Regions from separate parts of the Homo sapiens genome. Here region 2 is linked to region 1. Evidence: fine-mapped expression QTL. A gene starts in region 1. The other region holds a variant in brackets. All regions are shown on one strand. Distances are between the middles of the regions. Region 1 holds the start of COLGALT2 (collagen beta(1-O)galactosyltransferase 2). Region 2 overlaps COLGALT2 (collagen beta(1-O)galactosyltransferase 2).

Region 1 (15,865 bases):
TAGCAGCTGTATTTATAATAGCCCAGAAGTGGAAACAACCCAAATGTCCCTCAGCTGATGAAAATATAAAGTAGTATGTTCATACAGTGGAATATTATTCAGCATTAAAAAGGAATAAAGTACTCATGCTACAACATCAATGGACCTTGAAAACATAGTAAGTGAAAGAAGCCAATCACAAGGGGTCACATATTGTAGAATTCCATTTATGTGTAATGTCTAAAGTAGGTAAATCTATAGAGACAGAAAGTAGATTAGTGAGAGAGTAGCACGAGCTGGGAGACATAAGGATTGATCACTAATGAGTATAGGTTTCTTTTTGTGGTGATAAAAATGTACTAAAATTGATTGTGATCGTGTTGCATAACTATGAATACACTAAAAACCTTTGCATTGTGTACTTTAAATAGGTGAATTGTATGGTATTTGAAGAAAAATTCAAATGCAGGCAAAACTAACACACATTTAGGAGATGTACCAGAGTTCTCCAGAGAACAGAACCAAAAAGAGAGAATGAGATTGATTTTAAGGAATTGGCTCATGTGATTGTGGGGGCTTGAAAACCTGAAATCTGTGGAAGGCAGGCTGGCAAGTTGGAGACCCAGGAAAGAGCTTATTTTGCAGTCTTGAGTCCAAGGGCAATCCAGAGTCAGAATTCCTTTTTTCATGGAGAATCCCATTCTTTTAAGGCCTTCAACAGATGGGATGGCAACCCACATTATGAAGCGTAATCTGCTTTACTCAAAGTCTACTGATTTAAATATTAATCACATTTGAAAAATATCTCACAGCAATATCTAGACTGGTTTGACCAAGAAACTGGGCACCCTAGTGTAGTGAAGTTGACCCGTAAAATTAACCATCACAGGAGGTAAAGTTCTAAACAAAATGAAGAGACTGATTAACACAAAATTCAGTCTAGTACTTATCTCTGGGGAATGGAACAAAGCATTGTGACAAGAAGGGACTCAGGGCTTCAGAGTTAATGGTCATGTTCTGTTTCTCAAGGTGGGTGCTGGGTATATGGATATCCATTTTATTAGTAGTATTTAAATTAATGTATTAGTTTATGGATTATATCTGTTAGTTTATATTTCATGTTTATTAAATATTTTTATTAAAATTTTTCTAATATCTAGAGTACAAAGTGATAGTAAGTTAGGCAATTTCTATAAGTAAACAGATGCATATATGCAACCTTAAATAATGCCTGGCTTTGTAAATATGAAAAGACATCAAAAGCAATCCATGGTCCAAAAAATATCCCATGTCTATCTCTAGATATTTAGTCAACATCTGCTATCAACATGGATATTGAGTCTCACTGAAGAGGACTGAGTACAAACCCACATTGAAAATGTGCAAATTAAAAATGCCATATTAAAATTACCCCAAAATGTTAATGGTTGTGGTGGAGTAGTGGATCATGAGTGATTTTTTTCTTTTTTTCCCCCATTTTCAACATTTTTTAAAGTTCTATAGTAAAATAGACTTTAATAAATCATTGAATTTTAGAGCCTTTGGCCTAGAAGGGCTAATACAACACTCCACATTCATGTTAAAATATATCTTACGGCTTATTTACCTTGCTTAAATGTCCCTCCCTGCTTTCTTCTATTCCTCTCTCCTTCTCCCTCTCTCTGTCCTTTCTTCCTTCTTTCCTTCCTTCTTCTCCTCCCCATCTAAAACATCCAGTACAACATTAAACAGACGTAATGAGATCTGACATTCTTATCTTGTTTCTGATCACAGGAGGAACACTCAGTCTTTCACCATTAAGGATGATGTTAGCTGGGGGCTTTTTGTAGATGCTGTTTATTACGTTGAGGAAGTTCCCTTCTATTCCTATATACTGAGAATTTTTATGAGGAATTCATGTTGGATTCATAAATGCTTTCTCTGCATTTCTTGAGATGATCATATGATTTTTCAAGTTTGTTAATAAATCACATGGATTGACTTTTTCTTATTTTCTTATTGTGGTAAAATACATATAACAAAAAATTTACTATTTTAAGTGGTATTAAATACATTCATAATGTTGTGCAACTATTACTCATATCCATCTCCATGACTCTTTTATCTTTAAAACTGAAACATATACCCATTAAACAATAACTCCCCATTTCCCCTACCCCCATCCCCTTGGCAACCACCATTCTATTTTGTCTCTGTAATTTTGACTAACTACCTTATATAAGTTGAATCATACAATATTTGCCTTTAAAAATTGGCTTATTTCACTTAGCATAATGCCCTCAAAGTTAACATGTTGTAGCATATGTCAGAATTTCCTCCCTTCTTGAGACTGAATACTATTCCACTGTATGTATATACCACATTTTGCTTTTCCATTCACTAATCAATAGGCACCTGGTTTGCTTCCATATTTTAGCTATTGTGAATAATGCCACTGTGAACATGGGTGCACAAATATCTCTTTGAGACTTTGCTTTCAATTTGTTTGGGTATATAGCTAGAAGTAGAAGTGTTAGATTATATGGTAATTATATTTTTAATTTCTTGAACTGTCATACTGTTTTCCACAGCAGCTGTACCATTTTACATTCCCACCAACAGTGCACAATGTTCCAATTTTTCTACACCCTTGCCAACATTTGTTATTTTCTGTGTTTTTCTAGTAGCCATCCTAATGAGTGTGAAGTGATAAATCTTATAGTTTTGAATTGCATTTCCTAAGGATTAGTGATGTTGAGAAACTTTTCATGTGCTTATGGCCATTTGTATATCTTCTTTGGAGAAATGTTTATTCAAAGTCCTTTGCCCATTTTAAAGAAATGATTATATATAAAATTGTATAAAACCGTATAATTTTCTAGCTTTCTCTGTTACTACTTCCCATCCTATCTCCCAGCCATGCCCTGTTCATTGTATCTCTCAAGTGTGTCATACTGTTTCATTCCTTGCTCCTGCAGTTCCATCTACCTGGAATTCCCATCTCTTTCCCCTTCTGTCTTCCTTTTCTTAGTCCATGCTACTCATTTTTCTTTTCTTATATTTCGAATCAAATTATATTTTTTTCAGCTTTTAAGTTCAGCAGTACATGTGCAGATTTGTTACATAGGTAAACTTGTTTCATGGGGGTTTTTGATACAGAGTATTTCATTACCCAGGTATTTAACCTAGTACCCATTACTTATTTTTCCTGATCCTCTCTCTCCTCCCACCTTCCATGCTCCAATACGCCCCAGTTTGTGTTGTTCCCCTCTATGTGTCCATGTGTTCTCATCATTTAGTTCCCACTTATAAGTGAGAACATGTGGTATTTGGTTTTCTGTTCCTGCATTGGTTTGCTTAAGGATAATGGCATCCAGCTCCATCCATGTCCCTGTAAAAGACATTATCTCATTCTTTTTTATGGCTGCATAGTATTCTATGATGTGTATGCACCACATTTTGTTTACCCAGTCTATCATTGATGGGCATTTAGGTTGATTCCATGTCTTCATTATTGTGAGTAGTGCTGCAATGAACATACACGTGCATGTGTCTTTATGATAGAATGATTTATATTCCTTTGGGTATATAACCAGTAATGGGATTACCTGATCGATGGTCTTTAGGACTTTGAGGAATTGCCACACTGTCTTCTACAATGGTTCAACTAATTTACACTCCCACCAACAGTGTATAAGCGTTTTTTTTTTCTCCACAACCTTGCCAGCATGTTATTTCTTGACTTTTTAGTAGCCATTCCGATGGTGTGAGATGGTATCTCATTGTGGTTATCCTATAATTCTCAGCCTATCACAGCTGCCCCAGAGGCATTTATTTCCTCCTCTTCTTCGCTGTGGTTTTTACTTGAACTTCTCCAATAATCAATGATGTTGAGCTTTCCTTCATATGATTGTTGTCCACATCTATACCTTCTTTTGAAAAGTATCTGTTCGTGTCCTTTGCCCACTTTTTAATGGAGTTGTTTGGTTTTTCCCTCTTGTAAATTTGCTTAAGTTCCTTTTAGATACTGGATATTAGACCCTTGTCAGATGCATAGTTTGCAAAATTTTTCTCCCATTCTGTAAGTTGTCTGATTACTCTATTGATAGTTTCTTTTGCTATGCAGGAGCTCAGTTAATTAGATCCCATTTGTCAATTTTTGTTTTTGTTGCAATTGTTTTTCACATCTTCTTCATGAAATCGTTGCCAGTGCTCATGTCCTGAATGATATTGCCAAGGTTGTATTCTAGGGTTTTTAGAGTTTTGGGTTTTACATTTACATTTATAAGCCATCTTGAGTCAATTTTTGTATCTGGTGTAAGGAAAGGGTCCAGTTTCAAGCTTCTGTGTATGGCTAGCCGATTATACCAGCACCATTTATTGAATAGAGAATCCTTTCCCCATTGCTTGTTATTGTCAGGTTTGTCAAAGATCAGGTAGCTGTAGGTGTGCAGTCTTATTTCTGGGTTCTCTGTTCTGTTCCATTGGTCTATGTGTCTGTTTTTGTACTAGGATCATGCTGTTTTGGTTACTCTAGCCCTGTAGTATAGTTTGAAGTTGGGTAGCGTGATGCCTTCAGCTTTTTTCTTTTTGCTTAGGATTGCCTTGACTATTTAGCCTCTTTTTTGTTCCATATGAATTTTAAAATAGTTTTTTTCTAGTTCTGTGAAAAATCTCAATGGTAGTTTAGGAATAGCATTGAATCTGTAAATTGCTTTGGGTAGTATGGCCATTTTAAAAATATTAATTCTTCCTGTCCATGCATGCTACTTATTTTTCAATGCTCAATTCAAAGACATCTCTTTAATTAAACATTTCCTAGCTATCTCCACTTCCCCACTTCCTTACTTATGCTCCTTTTTCCATCATAAGACATAAAATGACTTATAGCATTTGTGCATTTATATGACACATCTTATTTATTCATGCATTTCCAGCAACTATATCTTGGCACAGAGTAGGCATTGAGCAAGTGTTTGAAGGAATGAGTTAATATAATTTAAGGGATGCATCTATTCTTAAATGAGACGTAGAAGTGTAGTTTACATTTGTATAAACTTGTTTTGAATTGGAAAACATTCCTCCGTAGTGACTATTCTATAGCTCTTGGATGCAGCCAGAGCATAGACAAAACTTTGACACTGACGTAGTTTAATTTTAGCCTTTCCCACCTCAGTCACTGCTCTTTTTCTCCCTTAATATTAATTCCCTTCCTAGGACCCAGAGTCCTCGGGCCTACGTATCAGAAATCCATAAAACTTGCTTTGTCACCAAAGAGACCCATGCTTCAAATTAGGATCCCATTCAGTTCCCTTTATCAAAACTTCTTATAGGCCATTTCAGTTTAGGTGATAAGATTTAAAAATCTGATTGAATTAAAAAGATATCATCTAATGCTCCTCTCTCAAGGATTTTCATGTTGAAATTGGCAGAATTGTCAATTCAAGTACATTTTACATTGTAGGATTTTAGGATGGATCAGAAAAGCGAGTAAAACAAACCAGGTAGTGAAAGAAAGATATTTCAGTACAGAAGAAAGAAGCCTGGATAATTCAGCCAAGAGACTCTTTCTGCCAACTATGGCCCAGCAGGACTTACGAGGGGCTGGCCACTTTCTCCCTGTTTTTCCAAGGGAGAAGCATTCAAATATTCAACACTCAAATGATTGGCATTTAGCAATTTCATAAATGTTTGTTGAATGAAAAAATGAGGCAAGCATTTAAAACTTTTTTACCTAGGAAGGAATTGATGTTCAAAGAGGTCAAGTTTCCAAGGTCACAAAGAGAATAAGTGACACCAGTGAAATGAAAATTCAGCTCCAAGTGTCAGTTGCTCTTTCAAGCCTATCACAGCTGCCCCAGAGGCATTTATTTCCTCCTCTTCTGGGCTGCTGGAGCCACAGACATCTTGAGAAGCTTTCCTGCAAGAAGTCCTCTGGCCACCTCATAGGCCCTGTCCCCACCACATTGCACTAAGGGTGACAGTCCAAGAGGTTTTGTTGTCCCAGATGGAAGTCCCCTGTGCTGGAACAGTATGGGGAGGGGATATGAGAGAAAGTGCTTACTTCTAACTTTATGTAGAATCAATTGGAACAGTCTACTGGCAGTGGAGACAAAGAGATATGTGTGTACAACCCTGACTTTCCATTCAGCCGATTTTCCATGGAAAGAGCATTATAAGCAATGAATATTTTAAAATATAATTGGCTTTTATTTTTAAATTAGTTTTTTTTTTCAAATTAACTGTCTTATAACATCAATCCTATGCGGGGGGGAAACATCCAAATTCACATTACTGATTTCTGAAGAACTTATGAAACAAATCTGTTAGTAAGATGGGGACTTAATTTTTCCCAGGCTTCCCCTCCACTGCCTCCCAACCATATTTACAATGATCTTCTACTGTTGCATACCCTGTTATTACCTTAATATTCTCAGTCACTAAATGAGCACTCAATTAAAAGTTTTAAATAGGTGTTTTGTAGGTTATGTGGCTGGGAAACCCTTGATTTCATCTACAGAGCAGAGCAGGTTGTAGTTATTTTAAGAGAACTCCATGGAGCCGATTTCATTATAATGTCATTAGAGACCATACAGGTTTAGATGCTTCACCTTTCTTTGAAAAAATAGACTCAGATAAGCTGTTGACTTTAGGTAACTGTATTAGTCTGTCCTCACGCTGTGAATAAAGACATAGCTGAGATTGGGTAATTTATAAAGAAAAAGAAGTTTAGTGGACTCACAGTTCCACATAGCTGGGGAGGCCTCACAATCATGGCAGAAGGCAAAGGAGGAGCAAAGACACACCTTACATGGCGGCAGGCAAGGGAGCATGTGCAGGGGAACTGCCCTTTATAAAACCATCAGATCTTGTGAGGCTTATTCACTATCACGAGACTAGCATGGGAAAAACCTGCCCCCATGATTCAATTACGTCCCACGACACGTGGGGATTATGGGAGCTATAATTCGATGTGAGATTTGGGTGAGGACATAGGCAGACCATATCAGTAACAGAAGGAAAATAAGACAGAAATGTGGTTGCCTAGCTTTAAACTCCCTCTGTTTGCAGTAAAGTGAACAAATGATAACTATCAAACCAAGTTTGGCTAAGGAGTGCGGATTTTAGTATTGAAAGATGAGTGGGACATAGTTCAAGAAAGGGAAACAAGAAAGACAGAACAACATGGAGATTGTCTGGACCTTTCTAACAGTCCCATCACTACCTCCCTTGTGGAAATGACCACATCTTCCTCTATCCCTTCACTGTAGCTGGTACATCTGTTACAGTACTTCTAACAGATGTTTAACTCTCAGTCTTCCCTACAAGACTGTGAGCCCCTTGAAAGTGGGAACAATTCCTGAAAATGGATGGAGGGGAAGGAAATGTCTGTAGGCCATTCGATAAAAAAATATGAAGATTAGAGAAGAGATTAGAGCAGAAGACATAGATTTTGAGGATATAACCACAGGAGACCATATGGAGTGGGAAGACTAGCACACTATAGGGAGGCACACAGTGAAGGGGCTTGGCTCAGAGACAAGTAGTATCAGAGGAGATCTAGGATGGGAGATTATGTAATCGAAGTCCAGGAAGGTGAGAACGGAAGAGTTTACTGAATCTGCCAATGCTGAGGCCATCTGTTGGTTTTGCAGAACAGTGGGGAGGGCTGACGCCTTACTGCACTGTGGTGGGAAAGATGGGAGATGAAGAAGTGGAGAATACAAGTATAGATCTCTCTTCCAAGGAGCTTGGTCAAGCAAAGGGATGACTAGAAGAAGACACAGGACTTTTTTTTAAAGCTTTTCTTTCTTTTTTTTTTAACGGATAAGAGAAGACTGACCAAGTATTTAGCTTGAGAGAAAGGAGTTGATAGAGATCAGTTGAAGATTCAGTAGAGAGTGGAATGATAGAGAAAAATCATGGGCTAGAAAGGGAGACCTCTCCCTTTCTAGTCTGTGATCAAAGACCCTGTCGTGAGGAGGCACCTGCAAGTAAGAAAGGTCTTGGTAGGGATGCTAGTTGGAGACAGTGGTGTTGGGGGAGCTGGATGAAGGAGGTGATATACTTCAAAAGACAGTAGGGAAGACTTCTAATAGTTGCTGAGAAGGATTGATAACAACTAATAAAAAGACTATGGGACAGACCTGAGGGTGAGTTGGGATTGGAGATCATGAATGTGCACTGGCACCAAAACACCCTCCATACTTATCTATCAAAGGCTACACAATATATCTTCAAAACTAAATATCCAGCCGAGCATGGTGGCTGATGCCTGTAATCGTAACACTTTGGGAGGCCGAGTTGGGCAGATCACTTGAGCCCAGGAGTTCCAGACCAGCCTGGGCAAAATGGTGAAAACCCGTCTCTACAAAAAAAAAAAAAAAAAAAAAAATTAGCTAGGCGTGGTGATGGACACCTGTGGTCCCAGCTACTCGGGAGGCTGAGGTGGGAGGATTGCTTGAGCCCAGGAGGTCGAGGCTGCAGTGAATTGTGATCGTGCCTCTGCACTCCAGCCCCGGCAACAGAGTGAGGCCCTGTCTCAAAAAAAAAAAAAAAAAAAAAGTAAATCTCCTTTAGCAGTGTATGCCAGCAGTTTCATTTTATGTGCTAATTGTGTTCTTCCTTCACCCCTTCTTTTCTTCCTTATCTCTTCTCTGCTCTCCAACATGCGCGAATTTTCCCTCTTTGTTACTCTATCATATTGGCTTATTACGGAAAAAGAAAACCAGCTAAGTGAATTTATTCTTTCACAGCCCTCCTGTGAGGAGGCTTACTGGGTTCACAGTAGAGTGAGGCTTCAGGACAGTGTCTCCCAAGGGCTTTCTTTTATTTTGCGGGGTCTGATCTGGCTCCAAAATTCTCCAAGTCTTCAAACTTTGTGTTATTAGGTGTCTACTCAGTCAAGAATGAATTTCAGAAGTTGAGTATATAAGAAAATGCGACATGCTGCCTTTGCGGTGGTTAAACAAGTGTTTGTCATAATCGTGAATAGTTGGGGAGACTTTTCATTTTAGAACTCTACTCAGTCAATAGGTGCATTATGAAAACTGGATACATTGCATCACTGTGAAGGGCTTCAGTCTGCGGTTTGCAAAAGCAGAATAAATTTTCTTGGGGTTGTACCGTTATGTACACACACACACACACACACACACACACACACACACACTCACAGGCTCATTGGCAGACAGGGCCACAACTCGCGGCTCTAGGGAAGGCCACAGACCTCAGCTGTACGAGCGGAACCTGGACTAGAGGAACTTTCCTCAGGACTCAGGGCACACAGCCCCTCGGCCACTACTGTCTGCGAGCCCGAGGCGCAGGGGAGCGCCAGCGGCTGCAGGTACGCTGCGCACCCGCACTGGGGCCTGGGCGGTGCAGCGGCGGCGGGAGGGTCCTGGGAACCGCAGCCGCCGAGGCCAGTGTGTGAGCCGGCCGGCCGCGGCAAGCCGCATCCCCCGGCCGCCCCTCGCAGCCCCTTGCTCCCCGGCAGCCGCCGCCGCCCTCAGGCAGCCCAGCCGGGCGCTCGCGCCAGGACTTCCCCGCCGCCCGCCTCGGCCCGGAACATGGCTGCGCGCCCTGCTGCCACCCTCGCCTGGTCGCTACTGCTCCTCTCCTCAGCCCTGCTCCGCGAAGGCTGCCGAGCGCGCTTCGTCGCCGAGCGGGACTCGGAGGACGACGGAGAGGAGCCGGTGGTTTTCCCGGAGTCGCCCCTGCAGAGCCCCACGGTGCTCGTGGCGGTCCTCGCCCGCAACGCGGCGCACACGCTGCCGCACTTCCTCGGCTGCCTGGAGCGGCTGGACTACCCCAAGAGCAGGATGGCCATCTGGTGAGCGCGCACGGGCCCCGGGCCGCCGCGGCGGGACGCGGGGGCGGCCTGCCCAGCGCGGACAGCGCCCGGAGCAGCAGCTGCAGGGCGAGGGAGCCGCTGGAGGGGCGGGGGGGCACGCGGAAAATCTGGCGCACACACCCCCTCGCTGCCCGCGCCGGTGGCTGGCGGATCGGGCGGTCAGGCTGCGGAGGGACGCGCGGGTCAGTGTGCGCAGAGGGTGCTGATGGGGAGAACCGGACCGCTGGAGCTCTGGAGGGTAGCCTGCGAATTGGGGCTTTGTCCCACAAGGGGCATGGGGGACACCCCTCAAGGGGACTTTCAGTTCCCTCGCTTTTAACTCTCGAGGTTTCCTCTTTCCCCACCTCATACTGCTAGCCCTGACGTGAGGGGATAGGGTGCCTGTCGCCGTATTCCCATGTAGATACGACAGATGGAACGTAACTGCGGTTGGCCAGGGGCTCCGCAGTGGCTGGGGCGCCGCAGTGCGCTGCTCTGACTTTCCGGTGCCGGGCTCCTGCTCCAGGCTGGAAATGTGCTCCTAGCTCTCCTAGGGGGACCTGGACCTAGGGGTGGAGATTGGGCGGAGCCCGCGGAGTGTGCCCAACCATGGCACCACCGTGGGCCTGGTCTCCTGCGAGCGCTCCGGGCTGTCCCTGCCGGTGCATCGGGGTTCCACGTCCCGGGGAGAGACGAAGATGCCCTGGGAAAGATAAACAGCCAAGTTTTGTCCCCGGAGGAAAGAAGCTTGGACCTGGTCCCTGTGTCTGCTGCGGGGAGGGCCAGGGGATAAGTGCGGGTGCCTGCCCGCCCCACCTTGTAGAACTTGGTCGTCTCGCACCTTTTATAAACGCGAGGATCCGAGGGCGAGAAGTTAGTTGGTGGCCAGGTTAGCCGCTGAGTGGGTTGTGGAGGACAAGGAGGTGGATGCTGGCCAGGGGAGATGTGCTGTCAGGTAGGTACTCGGACAAGAAGACTCTGGCCCCCTGAGGAAGACAGAGCCCAGGTCACTCTGGAGCAATTTCTGTCTTGTGTTGATAAAGGGAGCTGTTCTCAGGCGAGACACATCCTTAAAGCAGCGGTTGGGCAAAGAGAGGAAGAGGAGTAAAAGCAGCAGCTAGAATTGGCAGCCTCAGAGTACCTGGTGGGAGAGGTGCAAAGGTGCGAAAGCAAACATGTGATATAGTACAGCTCTGTGCTGTACACTGCTTTACTATATACCCTGCCATACGTGACCGCCTGGCGGAGAAGGGCATATTATGTGGAAAGAGAGCACTGGGACAGCCAGGCTTTAAACCAGAAGGAAGGATTTTTTTTTAACCACTTCGGTACCAAAAGAAATTCACACATATCAGTTACCTTAGTTGTTGTGTTTTTTTTAAGAGATATTTTAAAATATGGTTTTGATCTTTATGCATGATTTAGTTTTTTAAAACGTTACAGTATTTACCATAAGAAGTTGGTGAGTGGTGAAGCAGGTGTCAGGCACATGCTTTGCTACCTGATTTAGAGACATTACCTCTTTTTATCATACAGTAAACTTTTAAGAGGATGCTATGATGTTTATTTTGCAAAGAAAGAGACAGACTTGCATCAGTTCAGTAAGTCACTTAAAGTGACAGAATTAATAAATGGTGAAACTGGAATTTGAACCCAAGGCCACCCTAAAAAGGCAGGAAACATGATATAAACAAAATTTACATAAGCCTATAATCTACAAATTAGGAGACTTGAGTTGTTTATTACTAGTTTGATATGTGATTTGGGGCTGGTTGCTTGGGATCCATAGGCATCAGTTGCCTCATCAATAAAACGAGGGAGTTGGAATAAATGATTTCAAAAATTCTTTATGGCTCTTGAATTCCATAGATTTTGCAATATAATTAGGATCAACCAGCATCAATGTACATCCTAAGTTCCCTGTAAGTTCCAGATGGTATGGACACTGGTGTCTTACTTAGATGAGAGAATTCCAGTTCTGCATAGACCTTTGAAATCTGTTGTCTTTTATGTCCAGCATTGGCAGGTTAAGCAAGAAGTGCAAGGCCATGCTTGCGTCAGTCATTGAAGACTCTTCTTTGAAAAATTTTGGTTCTGTCTTTAAAACATTGTGTAATTCTTTAGGTAACAATAATACAAATCCCAGTTTCTAAATAGTTCTTTTCAGCTCACAAAGGAGCTGTAAAGAACCTTTGGAAATAACTTCCATGCACTGTTAACTCATTTGATTCTTACTGCCATTCTGTGAAGAAATAAAATTATCTCTATTTCCCAGAAGAAGAAATGTGTTTAAAGTGATTGACTTACTCAAAATTACATTTATTTATAAATTCCACACATAATAATAAGAGCTCGTGGTTCTTCTAAGAACTTCACATTCATTTTCTGGTTTAAGCTTCAAAATGACCCTATCAGATATGCACTGTTATTATACCACTTTACAGGTGAGAGAACTGAGGTACAGAGAGGCTGTACAAGCATATTCTTCTAATGCATTTTTTAAAATAAGAACCAGCCAGATCAGGGCTGAAAAAAAGTGTATTTAGATATGTGTGTTTTTTTACAGATAAATATGATTCATTTTACTGGGCAGTGTAAGGTGATCTGAATGGCTTTTAAAGGGTTTGGGGAAGAACCAAATGATTTATAAATCAGATTGGGGCAGTTGTATGGATATGGATGTCTTCTTGATGAGTGGACACTTAGTTTGAACTCAGTTTTGAAGGAAGAGTAAAAATCAACTAAAACCTGGGAAAGAAGGATGGCTCTAGAAAAAGGGATCAGCAAGGCAAAAAACAAGCAAAAAAAAAAAAAAAGATAATAGGGCATCAACCAGAGTTTTCTCTCAGGGAGTTCAAGTGGGTGGCAGGTCTAATGACTGCAAGTCTCCAAACAGATTGTATTGTACCATAGAATCTCTTTGGAAGTGCTGACTTCTGGTCTGGCCCTAGGGGAATATTTGGCTGGGAAGCTTATGAGATATAACACTCTGATGGGAGGTGGTACCTCAGTTTAGGATGTTACAGATTTGAGGTGCTTCTACCGATTGCTTGCCTCTAGTTTCTCATTCCCAAGCTCTATGCAACATTCCAAGATGCCAAACTGATTAGTATCCATTCTGCAAAGCCAGCACATGCTGATGTCAAAAATGGCTGTGAGCTACCCAGAACTTTGTAAAATAGAACCGCAGTGAATACAGAGCCACACAGAATTCAGCTTCCTCTGAATCTGACCACAATAACTCACTCTGTGCAGACTCACTCTTCTCATTCATCCACTCACAGGCTAGAGGAGCATCTGATTTCTGTCCCAGATGGGTCAGTGAGAGACCTGGCTTATTGATCACATTCAGACTCCCCTGTTATGTGATAATTTTTCTCACTTTAAGTTCTGGACCAGATCTGCACTGCACATACAGATGAAATGAGTATCATCAAATTGACCTGGAAGATACTGTTGTTGAAGAATGTCTGCAGTTATCTCAGTCAGCATCAAGTTTATTCAGATTAGTCTGAACAAAGGAAAATTTATATTTTAGAGATACTTTGTATAAGCAAAAAGGAAAGCTTTTTACATTTACCTGTCTGATCTCAAAATCCACCAAGCTAATTGTTTTCCTTCAAATATCACAATCCTGTGATAAGGACCTAAGGAAGATATCTATTTCATGTGTCCTAAAACCTGCACTAAGTTTTAGGGAATTGGGAATATGCTGAGATGAAGGGAACTGTGAGGCATTGTGACAAGTGGTAGTGTACTTCAGTGGGTTCTCCTTAATTCAGTGGAACCATGAGCAAGTAGCCTTAGCAACAGAGGGAAGGCTGACCTCATCCTCCTTAAACCTATGATTAGGGAGAGTGGGGCCAAGTACCATGACAGTGAAAACCGAAGCATGGCGCAGGGAAAAACATTTGCCCCAAATGAAACATTAAGTTTTTCTTTTGGAGAGCCTGCTGTTGCTTGTGGGAAGACAGTTGGGATTCACAGAGTCTGTGCAGGCACAAGGCAGTAACTGCTATGTAATTACAGAAAGATTTGGGCATTTTGTTTGGCAGAGTTTTGAAAAGTAACATACTAAATTGGGAACCGCTTTATGGATTTTTAAATAAAGAGAGGAGCTTCTGTTGACATAAACATAAACAGTGATGAGCTGGGGGATGGTCCTAACATTTTGCATACTACTTTATTTCTGCATTGTTTGGGGATTATCTTGAATTTATCTCCACATTTTAATGTCCAATCAGTAGCATTTTCATAATTGTTTAACTAGAAATACTAATATACTTTGTGTTTATAAACTGTTCCAAACTAGTATCAGTGACATTTTTCAGCACCAGTGGTAAGAATGATGTCATATTTTATCATTACACTCTTGATATTAAATGTTGTATGTTATCCCTACAGATAGAAGTTTCGGTTTATGGCTGAAAAAGCAGATGATGCCTTAGGCCCCTTCTGTCTGTTAGTCTGTTTTCCTCACCTTTTTCCTCCTTTCCTCATTTTCCCAATCTGGTAGTTTAGCGTGGAGGGCATCAACCAGAGTTGGAGGAAGAAATATACAAGCTTAGGGTCAGATAGACTAGAGCATAAATCTTCTGTGTGATTGTGGGCACATCAGTAAACCTCTAAGACATAGCTGCCTTATCTTCAAATAACTAATAGTAACACCTGTCTCAAAGAGTTATTGTTACAAGTAAATGATATAAGGTATGCACAGTGTCTTTTACATAAATGCTACTAACAATGATAGTTGCTATTTCTTTTGAATCTTTTCCTTTTTCTCCTATCTCCTTTACCTTTACCTTTCAAAATCAAGATTTTAAAAAATCTTCAAATGGAAATTTGTTTAGTTTCTTCTTTCCAACAACAACAAAAAATATTAGTATAGGAAACTAACATTTATCTGGATGCAGTGGCTCATGCCTGTAATCCTAGCACTTTGGGGGGCCGAGGTGGGCAGATTTCTTAAGCCAAGGAGTTCAAGACCAGCCTGGGCAACATGGTGAAACTCCATCTCTACAAGAAATGTAAAAATCATCCAGGCACGATGGCATGCACCTATAGTCCCAGCTACTTGGGAGACTGTGGGTGGATTGCTTGAACCTAGGAGGTGGAGGTTGCAGCAAGCCGAGATTGAGCCACTGTGCTTCTTCCTGGGCAACACAGCGAGACCCTGTCTCAAAAGAAAAGAAAAAGGAAAAGGTAAGGGAAGGGAAAAATAAAGAACTAAGGAAGGAAGGAAGGAAGGAAGGAAGGAAGGAAGGAAGGAAGGAAGGATACATTCATGGAGGCACTGTTCTAGACACTTTGGTATCAAAACTGATTTACTCCAGACAACAACCCTAGGTGGGAGATGCCATTACATTCTACTCTATCACTTTACACAGAAGGAAACCGAGGCACAGAGAATATAAATAACTTGCCTGAGGTCACTAGGCTAATGCATGGTGGAGCCAGGATGTGACCCAGGCAGCTAATGTTGCAGACCGAGTACAGATGGTCTGCTTAAGATTGTGAAAAGACCAATTAGTTCTAGTTTTTGCTTCTGTCGGTTGACCCAACTTGGGAAGATAAGAACGCTAGTGTTTCTTTCAAATAAGAATTGTCATTTCCACTTGAATGATGCAAGGGTCTTAGTGGTTCTCTTCCGCTGTCTTGATAATTTCATCACTTAGTTCAGGCACTTTTTAGTGAACTCTAATCTGTTTTGGTATATTTCATAGGGACAGATTATGACTAAAATGTGGGTTGTACATAAATATGCAGGTCACTTGCTGTGATCATAGCTACATAACAGTAGAAAGAAATTTCTCAAGTATTATTAGTGGCAAATGATTAAGGTGGCACTAATCATACACGTATTGGCTACATTTTCAGTTCATATTGGTAAAATAGAGATTCCATTTTTCAGGCTTTTTAATCAGTAGTCTTAGATTTGGTTGTCCCCTAAATTCAGCTTCATTCCAAATGATTGAAGAAATTATCAATCCTCCCTGCAACCTCCAATTTCAAAATATGATTGGAGCTCAGAATATTTCCTCTGGGTAAAAACTGAAGTGACTAATAAATGACACC
Region 2 (15,865 bases), 72 kb after region 1:
CAAAAACTAGAACCATGGAAGCAATCAAAACAACCTTTTTGATTAGGCAGTGCCTCCCCCACTTTTTAAGAAAGGCACAATGAAATTTTTGGTAGTTTAAAATTGGGCTACCTGGACTTCATCTTCAGGCCCACATGCATTTTCAGTGGGTAAGTGAAGAAGTGCCTGAATTATTTGGTCTCTGCCATGCAACAGGCATAAGAACTCTGCATATTTTTAGCTCACAGGAAAGGCTGTAGGTAAAGCAATGTAAGTTGTTCTTACAACTTTTTGGAAGAATTTGGGGGATATGAAAAAGTAATTATCTAAAAAAGTGATTCAGCTGAACAGCTCTGAAATGGTTCCCTTTTGCTCCTGAATGATCTGGGGAGTAGCATCTGTTGCTTGGCACAGTGATGCTCTCTTTGGAGAATTTATGTCCATCCCCATCCCCTCAACCACAGTGAAAATCTGCCCAAAAATGTATCACGCACACTTGTGACACAAATCCTTTCATAGAAGTTTTCAAATTGTACTGACAATATTTAACATTGTGTAGCTGTTTAAATGCCATTGAAGTGTACAAATGTTAAATCACAAAATTTGGGGTAAACAGATGGACTATCATAAAAATGAAGACTTCTGAATTTTTTATTGTGATAAAACCTACAAAAGGTAAAATCTGTCAGTTTATCCCTTTTTCAGTGTATAGTTCAGTATGATTATTTCTTTTATAAATTAGAATCTGTTGTTATACTGTCTCTAAATAAATCACTGTTAACATGGACTTCTAAGAATAGGAAATAGCTTCACTGGTTAGCATGGGTTGATATAATGTACTTAAACAAAAATTCTACTTGTCACATTAAAATTCATTGATAGATCTGTTTTGAGCTACTCTGGCATTACTATAGAAAAGCTAAGTAGGCATGCCCATCTGTACCTAGACTGGGCAGCCAATAAGTGTTTTTGAATGAACCTTTAATGGCTTGGGAGCCATTAATATCTTGTGCCTAAAACACTAGCCAAAGTGTAGGTTGGTTCCTGGTTGAGGCTATGCCCAGTATGGCAGCACCAATTTACTGCTTAGTGCCTTATGCAGAGCCCAACATACGAAAGTTAGACTAAATATATTTTGACTGAATGAAAGCCACCTAGCTGCAATGGGTTTCAATAAGGAGGACATAGATAGCTGGTTCCATATGTCATGAGCAAGTTTCTGGGATCCTTCAGAAGGGCTGGGTTATTCTCAAACTCATTACTGAAAAGTACCTTTTCACCTAACATTATCCTTTTCTTTTCCTAGTTCATAGATGTTGACAATTTCCTGACTAATCCACAGACCCTCAATCTACTGATTGCAGAAAACAAAACTATTGTGGCCCCCATGCTGGAGTCTCGGGGCCTGTATTCTAATTTCTGGTGCGGAATCACCCCTAAGGCAAGTCTTTTGCTTAAATGAATTAAGGCTACTAGTTTTAACAAGGCAACACCCGGTCAACAGTAGTCCCATTCACCTTTCTCTTGTTTACTCCCTTGAAACATGCGTGTCATTGTGTTCCCAGAGCAAGCATTTTTTAGGAAGGGCAGTAAATCTGGGTCCAATGCTACACCCAGTTGGGCTCTTCTGTGTTAATTTATTATGAAAAAAATAGTCTAAAGAGCTTAGCCTTAGAAACGTCAAATTAGCCAATTCCTGATTCAGGAATTACTATTTTTAATTAATTCTTTTTGTCCTTACAAAACTAACATAAGAACACTATAGAAAAACTTAGAAATTAAAAAAAGTTTAAAAGAAAACCAACAAGACAGATGTTAAATCCCCATCACCGTAACAACATCATAGATAGAAACTTGCACGTTTTTAGTAACTGTGTTATCATCAAGTGGCTATGTTCCAATTTACTTAACCTTTATCTCGGTTTGAAAAACATTTAAATTATTCACAACTTTTTAACTATCGTGACCGTCATGATTAATATAATTTTTCAGCATTTAAGATTATATCCTTAGGATAGCTTTTTAGAAGTGGAATTACTGAGTCAAACAGTACAAATATGCCAGGCGCGGTGGCTCACACCTGTGATCCCAGCACTTTGGGAGGCCAAGGCGGGCGGATTACAAGGTCAGGAGATTGAGACCATCCTGGCTAACATGGTGAAACCTCATCTCTACTAAAAATATAAAAAATTAGCCAGGCGTGGTGTTGGGCGCCTATAGTCCCAGCTACTCGGAAGGCTGAGGCAGGAGAATGGCGTGAACTTGGGAGGCGGAGCTTGCAGTGAGCCGAGGTCGCGCCACTGCGCTCCAGCCTGGGTGACAGAGCGAGACTCCCTCTCAAAAAAGAAAAAAAAAAAAAAAGTACAAATATTTCAATGACCTTCGATGTATGTTGCCAAATTTATTTCCAAAGAGTTCTAATAATGAAAACTACCATGGTAGGTTATTTTTATAAAATTCAAGTTAAAAAAGGTTTGATTTTTTATTATTTCTTTTTTTCATAGTAAAATCTTCAAAATAGTGGTCTGTTTTAGTGAATGCTCATGGCTGGTTATATTTTTTATTCTTTAATTAAAGAATTAGATAAATTCAACTGATTAATGTAATATGTATCAATGTAGGATAAAAATGTGCTAAGCAAAATATGTTGGCCAGGAGCAGTGTCTCATGCCTGTAATTTCAACACTTTGGGAAGCTGAGGTAGGACAATTACTTGAACCCAGGAGTTTGAGACCAACATGAGCAACATGGCGAAACCACATCTCTACAACAAATCAAAAAATTAACCAGTTGTGGTGTCGTGCACACCTATAGTTCCATCTATTCGGGAGGCTGAGCAGGGAGTATTGCTTGAGCCCAAGAAGTTGAGGCTGCAGTGAGCTATGATCACACCACTGCACTGCAGCCTAAGCAACTGAGACCCTGTCTCAAAAAAAGAGGGAGTATGTTCAATGTATTCTCATGGCCAAAGGGCTAAAGTTTGAGTCTCCCCTTTATATTTGGTTTTGTTTTGGATGAGAAATAAGGTCAGTAGTGTGCTGATAAATGTTTAATAACTGGCTCTTTGTGGGAAAAACCCTAGTTGGTAGCATTGCCAATTTTTATGGTTTAAATACTCCCACCATGCAAACAGCTTAAATGTTGTTAAGCTAAGGGAAAGGTTAAGTAAACTGCAGTATAGCCACTTGATGATACAGCTATTAAAAACATGTAAAACTGCCACATGAGGTGTCATTAGAGTGGTGGGGATTAACGTGATTTTTGTTTTTATGGATTCCAAGCTATCAACATGTCAACTGGTTTGCAAACTTTCTGAAAATTTAACAATGTGTGGTCCAGTACACCACTGGATGAAGCATTCCTCTTTTGTTGTAATTATTTCTTCTAGCTGTAAGAGATTTTGAATGCGTGCTATTTTCTGTGTCTCTTTTGGGAAGGTAATATGTTCATATTTCTAACAGCCATTCACTTCCTTGGGAGAAAACATTATATTGGTTTAAATTCATACATTTTCAGTGTTTCACATGGCAGAATCACTTGAGGGTTGTTTTTAATGAGTTGTGCTTTGACATCAGCAACAAGGGTGGGTTATCCTAGTGGCCGCAGCCTACAAATTTGTATTATCTCCTTATTTACTTTCAGGCTTAAAAGCAAATAGGAGAAATGTGCTCACTTGTTTTGTACAGTAAAACTAAATTCTGAGCAACTTAGGGACAAGTATTATTTTCCTCCATTTATTTTTGGCTTTCTACCATCCCAGTTAGTCTCTACTAGAGCAGGAATAGAAAGGGCCAGTGACTTCATAAATTCAAAGCAGGACCTGGTTCCCAGAGCCTTTAAACTCATTCAAAACAAAATGTCCTTGATGTTGTCTGGCCAATGAACAGGAATTATTACCAACAAGATTCAATTTATGTGGAAAAAGGAACACATTCATCATCTCTGCCTCTTTGCAGGAGGCACATTTATTCTCCCTCACTCTCCCTGCTTCCTTCCTTCTCACCCCCACCCCAAGGATATTCAGTGATTCATCATCATCATGGATTTTCCAAGCTAATCATTCTGGGAATATTGTTCCTAAGTAATCTAGAACTTTATATTAGACGCAAGTACTTAGGCAGCCCTTTAAAAAACCCGAGTCCCCTTTATCTCTTGGAAGACTGCTCATAAGCTGAAGTATTAGGAAAACCATAGAGGATGTTAAATGATCCTTAAGTTAAAGGCTAATAAAAACATTATAGTAATGATAATACTTCATATAATGAATTGCAGTTCCCAAAATAGGTTCATAGACCTTATCACATGTGATTCATTCTGCAGCTCTATGAGATTGACAGAGCAGCTGTTATCCCATTTTTCAGGAGAAAAAACTCAGGCTCAAAGAGGGTAGGCATGGACTAAGATCAAACGGCTAGAAGGTGATTAAGATGACTCTGAGACCCACATCTTCTGAGTCCTCATTTTTGATCCTCCTCCCTTATCATGGGGTCGGCATTAGGGTTAGCTCAGCTAGGACACTCTTCTAGAACCTGAAGGGAATGTCAGAGAAGTAGGTGAGGCTGTAGCACCTTATGTGTGGATGCTGAATTACAACAGGAAATGTAACCATGAAGTGATGCAACTGATTAATGAACACATAAGAACTTCCAGAGTATGGTGCCCTTCGGAGTGCTGGCTTTGCAAAACTTAACACTCATTCCAGTGAGCCTGCCATCACCTAGAACATTTTCCAAAATGCCTGGCAAAGCTTCCACAAGTATGTTTTGTAAGCATGTTTTGTTGAGATATATCTTCATCTTTTCTGGAAATGATTCAAGCTTTGGAATAAGGAAATTGGTTGTCCTGTGTGCTTGTGCAGAAGGACGTTTCAGAAGCTGAATCCCCAAAAACTATGGAGCAGCTGCAGCTTCACCAGAATATTGACTAAGTAACTGCATTGAAAGAAGACCCTCATTTGTATATCTAAGTAATGCATGTTTAATTACAAATATTAGCCACAGTGTAATGTCATTTTAATAGGAGCCGGTATTTGCTGATACATTCTTGGTGCTGGGCAGTAGTCTCAACACTATTCAGGTTCTACCTTACTTAAATTTTACAGCTAACCCCATGGAGTAGATAGTGCCGTCATCCCTGTTTTAGAGATGAGGAAATAAGCGCAGCAAGGTTGAGTCACTTGACCCATACCTACAGACAATAAGTAGCTGAGGTAGGATTTGAACTCAGGGAGTCTGACACTGGAACCTGTGCCCTTAACTGCTCTGCCACTTCTTAATACTCATGCTTCATATTTAATCATAAGTCAACATAAAATACACTTTTATGAAATTATTAAATCTAGAGATATGCTGAAATAAAAGTTACTTCTTATATCAAGACCCTTTTAGTATTATTTTATATGTAGACAGCATTTCTTGTGCTCACTTGGAAATTCATAGGCCATGATAAGAGGAGTGAAGGTGGCTTTGTTTGGGAGCTTGTATATAGCTGGTAATGACTTGAAAGGAATCAGTCTAGCAAATGACTGAGAAGGATGAAGACTTCAAATCAGAAAACACAACCCACCTATTTGCTCTTTTACAGGGCTTCTATAAGAGGACCCCAGACTACGTTCAGATTCGAGAATGGAAGAGGACAGGCTGCTTCCCCGTCCCCATGGTCCACTCCACCTTCCTAATTGACCTCAGGAAGGAGGCCTCGGACAAGCTGACTTTCTACCCCCCACACCAGGACTACACCTGGACCTTTGATGACATCATTGTCTTTGCCTTCTCCAGCAGGCAAGCAGGTACTGTTTGTCTTTGGTTGTAGTGCCACAATGGAGACACAGCAAAATGACCAGCTCCTTTGTTTTGTGCATTTTATTAAAAAAAAAAACCCTCATATGTCTGGTAGTGAGAGGCAGTAAATTGTCTGCAATAACCATACCAGCACCCTCTATGTTGCTGTCCCTGGGAGCACCAATGACCAAGAGCCAGGGCTGGCCTCTACCCAGGAACCCACTCTATTTTGAGTTGGAGGGACTGGTGGTGATATTGGGAATTATGGGAAGGTGATTGCTTCTCTGTGGTGCTACTGCATTGCAATTGTTTATTATAGAAGTTCATTTATTAATTAGGAAACTGTCACAGAGGCCTAAAACAACACTGGCAAAGACCCCAGACTTTAAAAATGGAAGTTTATTTCTTCTTGAAAAAGTCTGAGCTGCTGTAGTGGCTTTGTTCCACAAAGTGTTCAGAGTCCCAGGCTTCTTGTGTATTGCTTCTCACACTCCACGAGGTACTGCCCTTAATTGTGGAGTCCCAGGTGTCTCACCACCATGGATGCGTTTCAGCCAGCAAGGCAGAAACAACAGGGAGAACTCTCCCTGTCCCTTGAAGTGTGCAATCCAGAAGTTGAATGCAGTACTTCCATGCAAATCCTGTTAGCTAGAGCTTAGTCACAGGACAATACCTCACTGTAAGGGAGGCTCAGAATGTCGTCTTTATTCTCTGCATGCATGCACTGCAATTTTCACACTCTAGAAGAAGGAAAGAACAGATAAAGAGGCACCGAACAGTCTCAGCCTCAGTCCCTGTGGAAGGAGAGGCAAAGCGAGACTGAGGTCTTTTATGAACCACTGGGAAAGCATTTCTAGTGGGGCCTGGAGATTTTTGAGAAAGACAAGTCAACAGGAAGGAAAGTTATTTCTCTCATTTCACCCTACACTTGCTTCAGGAGGACAAAATTCACAAGAGCAGTTCAACAGCAAGACACATGGCATCTAACAGAGCAAAGCTTTGTTAGGATAATTCAGACTTTCCTGACAGAAGTTGGGTCCCATTATTAATGTGCCAGAAATGTGTCACTTAACCACTAGCAAAAATACGTTCATAAACCAAGAAGATGGTGAATAAACTCACTGTGGCCATATAACTGAGGGTGGAAAAGATGGTGCAAAGATCCTCCGGCAGCTGAGGAAGTGGCTGGCAGATGAGAATGTTAATACAAATTCAAGCTACAATTCACACATCAGACTCTCCTTAAAGCCATAGATGTCCCACTCATCAGTTGTAGATTTGCTGAGAATAAGAATATTTGGTAGAAATGGGTCAGGCTGATTTCCCCCTTGGCTGCTGGAGCAATTTAGACCCTTTGGCCAGGTGTAGGCATTTTGTAGCCCTTATGTCTAGGCAAAAGCAATCCTCATATGATTGGAAGATTTTTGTAAAGATTCCTATGTCAGTGTTAATGGAAACTCCTTCTTTCAGTTGGTCTGTGATTTGCTCTGACTTCCCCAGGATGGGAAGCAAAGTCAGGGCTTTTTGAGTCCTTTGAGTGCCAATCCCTTTCCTTCAGAGGTTGAAGTTAGGATGTTCCAAGAAAGTGAGATATTAACAATTACACGAATGACACTGCCTAACAGAGTCCTCCTTTATAGTCACTGCACAAAGCATTATTATGATGCAATGAACTAAATTATTATGATACATTGTATGAAACCAATACCTGGATATTGGTATGGGAAAAATGATTCAGGTTAAGCAGGAATTTTTCAGCTCTGCCCTGTGCTTGGCCTGTTCACCAGGATTTTGTGTGTTATTGGTCAGACTTTGAAAAGGCTTTTTTAGAACATTGAAAGCAGGTAGACACCCAAAGTTGTTTGGTGACTCATTTGGGAAGAGGAGATAGAAAAGGAAAGAGAGAGGATGAACTCCCAAGTGTTTCCTTCTGTTCCTGGCACGGTGTTAGTTGGGAGTTAAGATTTTTACATGTGAAAACACAACTAATAGTCATGAAGCAGTGAAAGCTAAGGGCCAGACTGGCGGTGCAGACCATGAACAGGGCAGGAGTCAAGGCAGGAAAGATTCACTGTCATTTTGGGGAAATGAAAGGTCTTTCTTGACAACTGTGGATTTTAAGGTAATATTGTACTTATCTCTAAGTATTTTCAAGAGAAACATGAATGAGCCTGGGAGTCATGTGCAGCCCAGGGCATGTCTCCAGGCTCTTCCTTCCTTAGTTTCAAAGCAAAGCACTTTCCTCTTTCTTCATGAAATATGATTGGTATTCTTTTGTTCTCACTCTTCTGAAGCTCCCTAGCTGTGTATCATCTATGTCCCAGGCAGGACCATCCAACCACAAACCTTGGTCCTAAATCTTTCACCCCAGACTCTAGCCATTGCCCCATGTGGGTGATGAGTGAGGAGCAATCCAAGTGTGCTGGTGAGCAGGGCTTGGCCACCCTTCTAGCCCAAGAAGAGAGCACATATGGTCATAGGCGCGTCTCTGTTCCTGTAATGAGTCCAGGGTCAAGAGTTCACCTCCCATTGTGGCCAGTGATCTGGGTTCTGTATCATGGCCACAGGAATCATCCCAGTGCCAGCCAGTCGTCTTCCAAATGTCTGATGTGAGTCAAAAGAGGTGAGTGATATGGGCAATGGGCAGACAGATCCTGA[A/T]CACCACTGGTAGTGATCAAATTTGTCCCCTTGTGGAGGGATGGCAATCCCCTAGTGACTAATGGTCTTGGAACTGAGCTTCCAATTACTGACTGGGTAGAAAGCACTTGGCATTGGCTCTTTAGGGACAAAGATTTGGCACTAATGACTTACTATGTGACCTTGGACAAGTGACAGCCTGAATCTGATTTTTCATCACCAAAGATAGGGATAATTACATCAATCTGCAATGTTAAGGTACTATATGAGTACAAGAAAATGTTTAATATGTTTAAAAGAAAAACAGTCCTTCAAAATGTAGCGTAATTCACTTCTCTTTTTCAAAAGAAAAATTGTCTTCCCCAGAAGCAGCATTCACTGGGAGTGCAGACTCTTTCATAGACTTTATCTAATTATTAATACATTTTCTTTTAAATTTTCTGTTATCAAACTGCCCATGCACATGGTTGAAAGTATTCATATAGTTCCCCATGGTTTATTAAGAAATGAACAGTCCCCTGCACATCACCCTGCATCACTTCTGTCCTCCAGAAGGCAACCACTTTTATCTCTAATATTTACTTCCATGTTAAATAATATGCATGCATTGCTACTTCTTGATTTTCTGGCTTCACCGTGGGCATTATTTGTTGACTCTCCACTATAGACTGTGAGGAGTTAGCTCTTTTTCTTCCTTTTTGCCCTCTGCATGCAAACACATTCTTCTCATCACCCTGTTCTCCCATTGTAATTTCAAACAGATTGATGGTCAGTGTTCTTGTTGTAATCATGCAAGCCTAACTCCAAGCTTGGTCATTCATAGGCTATGATTAGTTTTCCTTTGCCATTCTTTGGAGGCAATTCCTTTAATAATTGCCTTTTTTGCTTAGTTTTATTATTACTAGTATGATCCAAAACTAATCACTAATTACCTCAAACTCCTCTCAGAATGTCCAGATTTGTCAGATGTCCTTTTTTGCATATTTGCGAAGACGTCTGTTCTGGAGCTTTCTAATATATTCTAATCCAAGTGGTGCTGAAGCTATCAACCTAAGACTTATTTCTCTTCTCTTATACACTGACTCTCCTGTTCATGTTGTTTATAATCTTTCTTGTTGGTTATAATCGTCCTCCTCTTCTTCCTCCTCCTCCTCTTCCTTCCTTTCCTCCTCGTCCTTCTCTCACATCATCCAGCAGCTTTCTGAGAAAGTATGATGGCAAGTAAATATATTATGGTCTTGCATGTCTAAAAATGCCTTCCTTGTACCCTCACACTTGATGGATAATTTGGATAGGTATCATATCATTTTTTTATGGAAGCCTCAGAAAGTTAAATGGTAAAATGGTTTGCCTAATTAGGGTAGAGATGCAACTTTAATATATTTTTCCTTCCACTTCCTGAATTCATCATGACTTTACAAGAAGGTGCACTTTGAAGCTCCCCAGAAGCATTCATATGGGCAAACAGCAGAGCTAATGAGTTTGCTCGGTGAAGGCAAGAGAAGGGACAGTGCTTGGTAGACCAGCCTTGATTCAAGCCAGATTCAGTAAAAGCAGGGAATAAAGGTTATTTTCTTTTCTCCTTCCTCTCTGTTAATGCCATGAGACAGCTTCACCTGATTTGACAGATGATGTAGCTGACTGGAGGAAATTTCATCTGCACAAAATAGAGGAGTCCCTATGCAGATAATTATCTCTCTGGAAAACACTGACAATTATCGCAATTAACAAATCACAGGCTTGGATACATGGACCAGAGGCTTGGATACATGGCGGACTCATCCTTTTCACTAAGCAGTCTTATCATTGATCAGGAGTGTCAATTGCTGACCAATGATGTGTATGAGACCATCCTGATTCCTATATTTCTAGCTGTCTGGTTAAACACAGATGCCTTATAACTCTGCAAGTTATCAGGTGGGGCTATGAAGAACAATTTGAATATGAGAAGGGTATTGCATACTTCTGGTATTGTCACACTACAGGTTCTTAACAGGACATTCTGAAATGCAGACTCTTTTGTCTCTATATGAACTGATTTTGGAAGTTTCATGTCTGTTGGTTGGCTCCAAATCCATGCCTGCTAAGGGAAGCAATAAAACCAGGGAGAATCTTGGAGAATTTTAAATTTCCTTCGTTTTTTCGTTTTTTTGTTCTATGTATGCCTAGATTTAGCTTTAATAATCTGTCAGCGTTACAGAATTTTCCTGTTTGCTTTCATATCAAATGTGGATTTCATTCCTCATTTTCTTGTTATTTCCTGTAGGTGGATTACAGTGTTCCATTCTGCTCTCCAGAATGGGAATTCCTTGCCTCCCTTTTGATCCTTTCATGCCTTTTTTGTTCATTCCAGGCCATGAGTTTGCTTTTTCTTCAGAGGGAAAAAATCAATTTCCTCTGGGCTGAAGAATAGCCGAGTGTTTTTATTAGTCCCCAATGCTGTGTTTTACTTTTTTAATAAAGGAGCATTTTTTAGGTCTATAGACATACCTGAAACAACCACTTATTTAATTGCAGTGTCAAACTCAGCATCAGACACAGTTCAGGTTCCTTCTCCTCGCTTGTCACTCAGCAGTATGTTTTCTGATTGTTGGCTTTGTCCCTCTCTTGGATCCTCAGGCATCCAGATGTACCTCTGCAACAGAGAGCACTATGGCTACCTGCCCATCCCCCTGAAGCCCCATCAGACACTGCAGGAAGACATCGAGAACCTCATCCATGTGCAGATTGAAGCAATGAGTGAGTGACCCAGGAGCAGAGGGGATGGCTCTCGTTCCATTGCCACAGTGACCATACCAGCCACTTCCCTCCTCTTCCAGGATTGGAATCTCACAGCCATCAGTCTCCCCTGGCTGAATACATAGCTATTTATTTGTTCATTCTTTCCTAAATTTTTCCTATGGGAAATATGAATATGACAAGGTCTTTGCCATGTGGGAGCTTCCCATCCTGGAAGAGCGCTGGGTACACAAGTAAATACTTTCCAAAAGATCTGATAAGTGCTATAATAGTGTTTTGTGGTGTGGACTTAAACCCTAACTTGGCTGCTTTCTAATTATATGACTTTGAGCAAGTAATATCCTTAGTTGTAAAATGGAAATAATGAAAACTTCCAGGGTTTTTGGGCAGATTCATTATGGTATATGTAAAAAGGCTAATACAGCCACAGTAGTTATGACTTTAACTTAATAATAGCTCATGATGTAACAGATATCACTGTTACATCATAAAATGCTAAGCACTTTTTGTACATTAAAGTGTACAAAACTGTTTCATTGTTGTTTCATTAATCCTTGCAACAATTCAATGAAGGGTTTTTATTATGCCCATATTAAAGATGAAAAACAATGAGATGTTACCTTAAGTAACTTGCCCTAGATCATTCTGCTAAACAAATGACAGATTGGGATTTGAACCCATCTTGCTATCTCCAAAGTTCATGTCCTTAAACACTATTGTTATTGCCTCTGGGTCTGGCATGATGCATGAATTGCTGTGCTCAGTCATCAGTAGCTATGCTTTTTATTATGTGTGATGTACAATGGTGGCTAAAAGAGAAAGTAACCAATCCACCTAACCTAGGGGAAGATGTTGAAATGGCTTCCCAAAGCAGGGACTATTTTCTGTTATTCATCAGTAGAGCACGGGGGTGTGAACGTGGGCAGTGGAGGTGGTTAGGGAGGAACAGCAGAAACTGAGGCTAGAAAGTGGGCAGGAGCCCCGCCAAGAGGCTCTGATGTATAAGAAGGCATTTGGGCTTCAGCTGAAAGGACAGGCACGCTCAAAAAGATTTTAGCACAGAAATGTCAGGTTGAATTTGGATTTAGAAAGGTCACTCTACAGGTAAGAAAAGTGTAGGTGGAGCATGCATGGGATGCATGGGCAGTGGCTGCTGGTCTCAGGCCAGGGGTGAAGAGACCACTTTGGACATTTCACGGCTACTGGGCAAAAGGTGGTGAGGACCTGAGCTAGAGCAGTAACAGTGGGAATGGAGAGGAAGGAACAGAAGCTTAGGACATAGGCTTGAAAGGACATAGCCAAGAGTTGATTGTAGGTAGATGAGCAAAAGGGAGGCATAGAGAAAACTCCCAAGTTCTGTCTTGAGTGTCTGGGGGTGATTTTAGGAACTTTAAATGGAATAGGGCATGTAGCATAAAGGAGAGGTTTGAAAAGAGAGACCATGGCTGGCATGGTGGCTCATGGCTGTAATCCCAGCACTTTAGGAGGCTGAGGCAGGTGGATCACCTGAGGTCAGGAGTTCAAGATCAGCCTGGCCAACATGGTGAAACCTGTCTCTACTAAAAATACAAAAATAAGCTGGGCATGGTAGTGCACATCTGTAGTCCCAGTTACTCGGAAGGCTGAGGCAGGAGAATTGCTTGAACCCAGGAGGCAGAGGTTGCAGTGAGCCAAGATCGCGCCATTGCACTCCAGCCTGAGTGACAGAGTGAGACTCCATCTCAAAAAAAAAAAAAAAAAAAAAAAGAAAGAGAAAAAGAAAAGAAAAGAAAACAGAGACCATGAGTTTATTTTTAGATCCATTGAGTTGTCTATGAGTATCTGCTTCCCACTCCCTTGCTCCTACACTATAAATTCCTTTTTCATCATATTAGTCTCAGGACCTAGCACATTGTCTGTCACGTGGTAGATGCCCAGCAAATATTTGTTAAATGACTGAATGAATGATGATGAAATGATGAAATAAGGAGCTGGTTCACTGTGACAGTATTTCTTGAACCAGCCCTCAGGAATCTCCTTTGCGAATTTCTTTAATACATACTTTTTCTGCCACTTTCCCTATGTTCTAGGCCCTAAAGGATATGGGTGGCATCTTATTGCTTTGTATTCCAAGCACCTAGCACAGTGCGTGGCATGTAGTTGTTACCAAAAAAAATCTGCTGAATGCATGAACAAATGAGCAAATGAATGAATGAAAACTGTATTGACAAGGGCACTGAACCCAAAGCGAGAATAATGGGCTTGAACTTAGACACTGTCGCTTTTGAAGGGAGAATCAGATTTCAGGACTTCAGTTTCTTCATCTATAGAGTGATTTTGCAATGTTGAGAAGAGCAAATAAAAGACTATATCAACTCCATAAAATAATGAGGTGTTGCTATTATTATGACTCCATTTACCTCTCGATAAAGTGCTGTCCCTTATTATCCCTGTTTCATGGCTCTCGGTCTCGACTCCCAAGTAGGGAGAGTCTCTCTGGCCTCAGAGAGAGGCCAGCCAGACCTTATGTTCTCTTGTTTTCTCCCACAGGGCTGAGAGTATAAGCTCTCAGTACACAGAAATGCACGTGTCATCAATAAAGATTTTAATGATTGTAAATTACAAATATGCACACTACCATGCTAGCCAGGTAGAGTTCATTTGAGAAGAACCTGTAAATTATAGCTTTCATCATTGATCTCCCAACACATGCCACCTCTAGTGCTAAGCACTTTACATATCGCATTTTATTTCATTCTTATACTTACCTTCTGTCCTGAATTCTAAAAATATAGAACACAATAGGAGTAAGAAAATGTTGGAAAAATAAAATTTTGAGGTGTATAATGAAGAAATATGGCCTAGAAGTCCGTGTAAGATTGATAAAAAGTTGGTAATGACAAAATCCTATCAGTCAAGTATCCTTCTCTAATAAAAGATTAACTAGGTGTTAAAAACACTTTGCATAGTGCCTAGAACCCAATAAGCAGTAAATAAATGGCTGCTAATAGTGTTGTTAGACTATACTGATTGAAGAATAGGAACGGGGTGTCCAATATTTTGACTTCCCTGGGCCACACTGGAAGAAGAAAGATTGTCTTGGGCCACACATAAAATATACTAACACAACAATAGCTGATGAGCTAAAAAAAAAATCACAAAAAGAATCACATAGCGTTTTAAGAAAGTTTACAAATTTGTATTGGGTCACATTCAGAGCAATCCTGGGCCACATGTGGCCTGCGGGCCATGGTTGAACAAGCTTGCATTAGTATATGCATTTTGTTCATGAGCAAACATAGAATGCCTGTAATGTATGCGTCTTCTCTGAAGGTACTAGGGATTCAAAACATTTTATGATCAATTCTCTGTTTTCAGGTATGTATGATTTAATAGGAGAAACAGACAGATGTTAAAAAAACACTAACAACACAGTATAGCATTTTGAGAAAGGAGAAAATATCAAAGAAATAGGAATTTGGGATAGAGAGAGATTGCTATGGCCTGTGTGATCCAGGAGAGCCTCAAGTCCTAATCGTTCTTAGGCTAAGCTTGGGTACAAGTGTAAAATTTAAACAAGAAGAGTGGTATGGTGAGGACACTACAGGCAGAGGAAACAGACCAAGAAAAGACGAAGTATTCTCATGCTGAAGGAGAGCTGACTTAAAACAGTAGGCAGAAATAAAGTTCGAGAGGGTGGAGTGGCTTCATTGTTGTAGTCCTTGAATTCTTCTTCAGCTAAAGAAGAATTCCTATCTTAAGGAGCCAATGAAGGTGTTAGAAGAGATAATCAGGCTGTAAGGATTTATTCAACACATACTGTACCCCGCAGATTGTTCAAGATGCTGGGCATAAAGCAGTGAACAAAACAGGCAGAAGCCCTGCCATCAGGGAACTTATATTCTAACACAGAGAGTTAGACAATAGACAATATATCTGGGAAGCAGCCATATGAATATTTGGGTGAAGAATGTCTCAAGTGGAAAGAACAGCACATGTAAAGACTGTTAGACAGGAAAAGCTTGGGGGTGTTCCAGGGACAAAAGGCCAGCATGATTGGGGCATAAAGAATGAGTTGGGTCAAGGGAGATGAAGTAATGGAAGAAGAAATGTCCAGATCACACCGAACATTCTGGCCATGGTAAGGAATTTAGATTTTACTCCAAGAGTAATGGGAATCCGTGGAAGATGGGGTGGGGCAGAGGGGGCATGGCCTGAAGTGACTTGTGCATTTAGAAGGATCATTTGGGCTGTGGTGAGGATACTAGATTGTAGGGGACCAGTACCTCTCTCCTGGTGGGACATGATGGTGATTGGGATGTGAGCTCTAGCAAGGAGTTGATGAGAAACAGACAGGTTGAGGATATATTTTGGTGGTGGAGCAACAGGACTTACAGAGACCTGAATGCAGTCCATGAAGGAAAGAAAGGAATCAAGATGAGTCCAAGATTTTAGCCTGATATGCCATTTACTGAGATGGGAAAGACTTTATAGAAAAAGACTGGGGGTTGGGGAGCTAGTTTTGGTCACGTAAGTTTAAGATATTTAATAGGCATCTAAATAGAAAGGCAGAAGATAGTTGGATATATAAGTCTGGAGTTCAGGGAAGAAACTCCAGCTAGAGACAGATATTTGAGAATCATCAGCATCAGAAGGATATTTGAAGCTGTGGAACAGTCTGAACTCATGTAGTAAAAGAACACAGGATGAGAAGAGGACAGATCCCTGGGGAAGACAAAACAGCCAGAGAG

The links.
Region 2: its variant is fine-mapped to the expression of COLGALT2 in whole blood (TOPMed, PIP 0.99).

Annotation. Positions count from the first base shown.
Region 1 is chr1:184,031,020-184,046,884 of GRCh38, reverse strand. It overlaps COLGALT2 (collagen beta(1-O)galactosyltransferase 2), which reads left to right and starts at 9,157. Exons shown (of 12, transcript NM_015101.4): 1 at 9,157-9,790. The coding sequence starts at 9,528. RefSeq lists silencers at 9,345-9,434, 15,176-15,470.
Region 2 is chr1:183,959,171-183,975,035 of GRCh38, reverse strand. It overlaps COLGALT2 (collagen beta(1-O)galactosyltransferase 2), which reads left to right. Exons shown (of 12, transcript NM_015101.4): 4 at 1,286-1,420; 5 at 5,563-5,767; 6 at 11,016-11,135. Among named protein-coding and RNA genes, the nearest start is that of COLGALT2, 71 kb to the left of the region's middle. The variant A/T (reference allele first, on the strand shown) is at 8,418.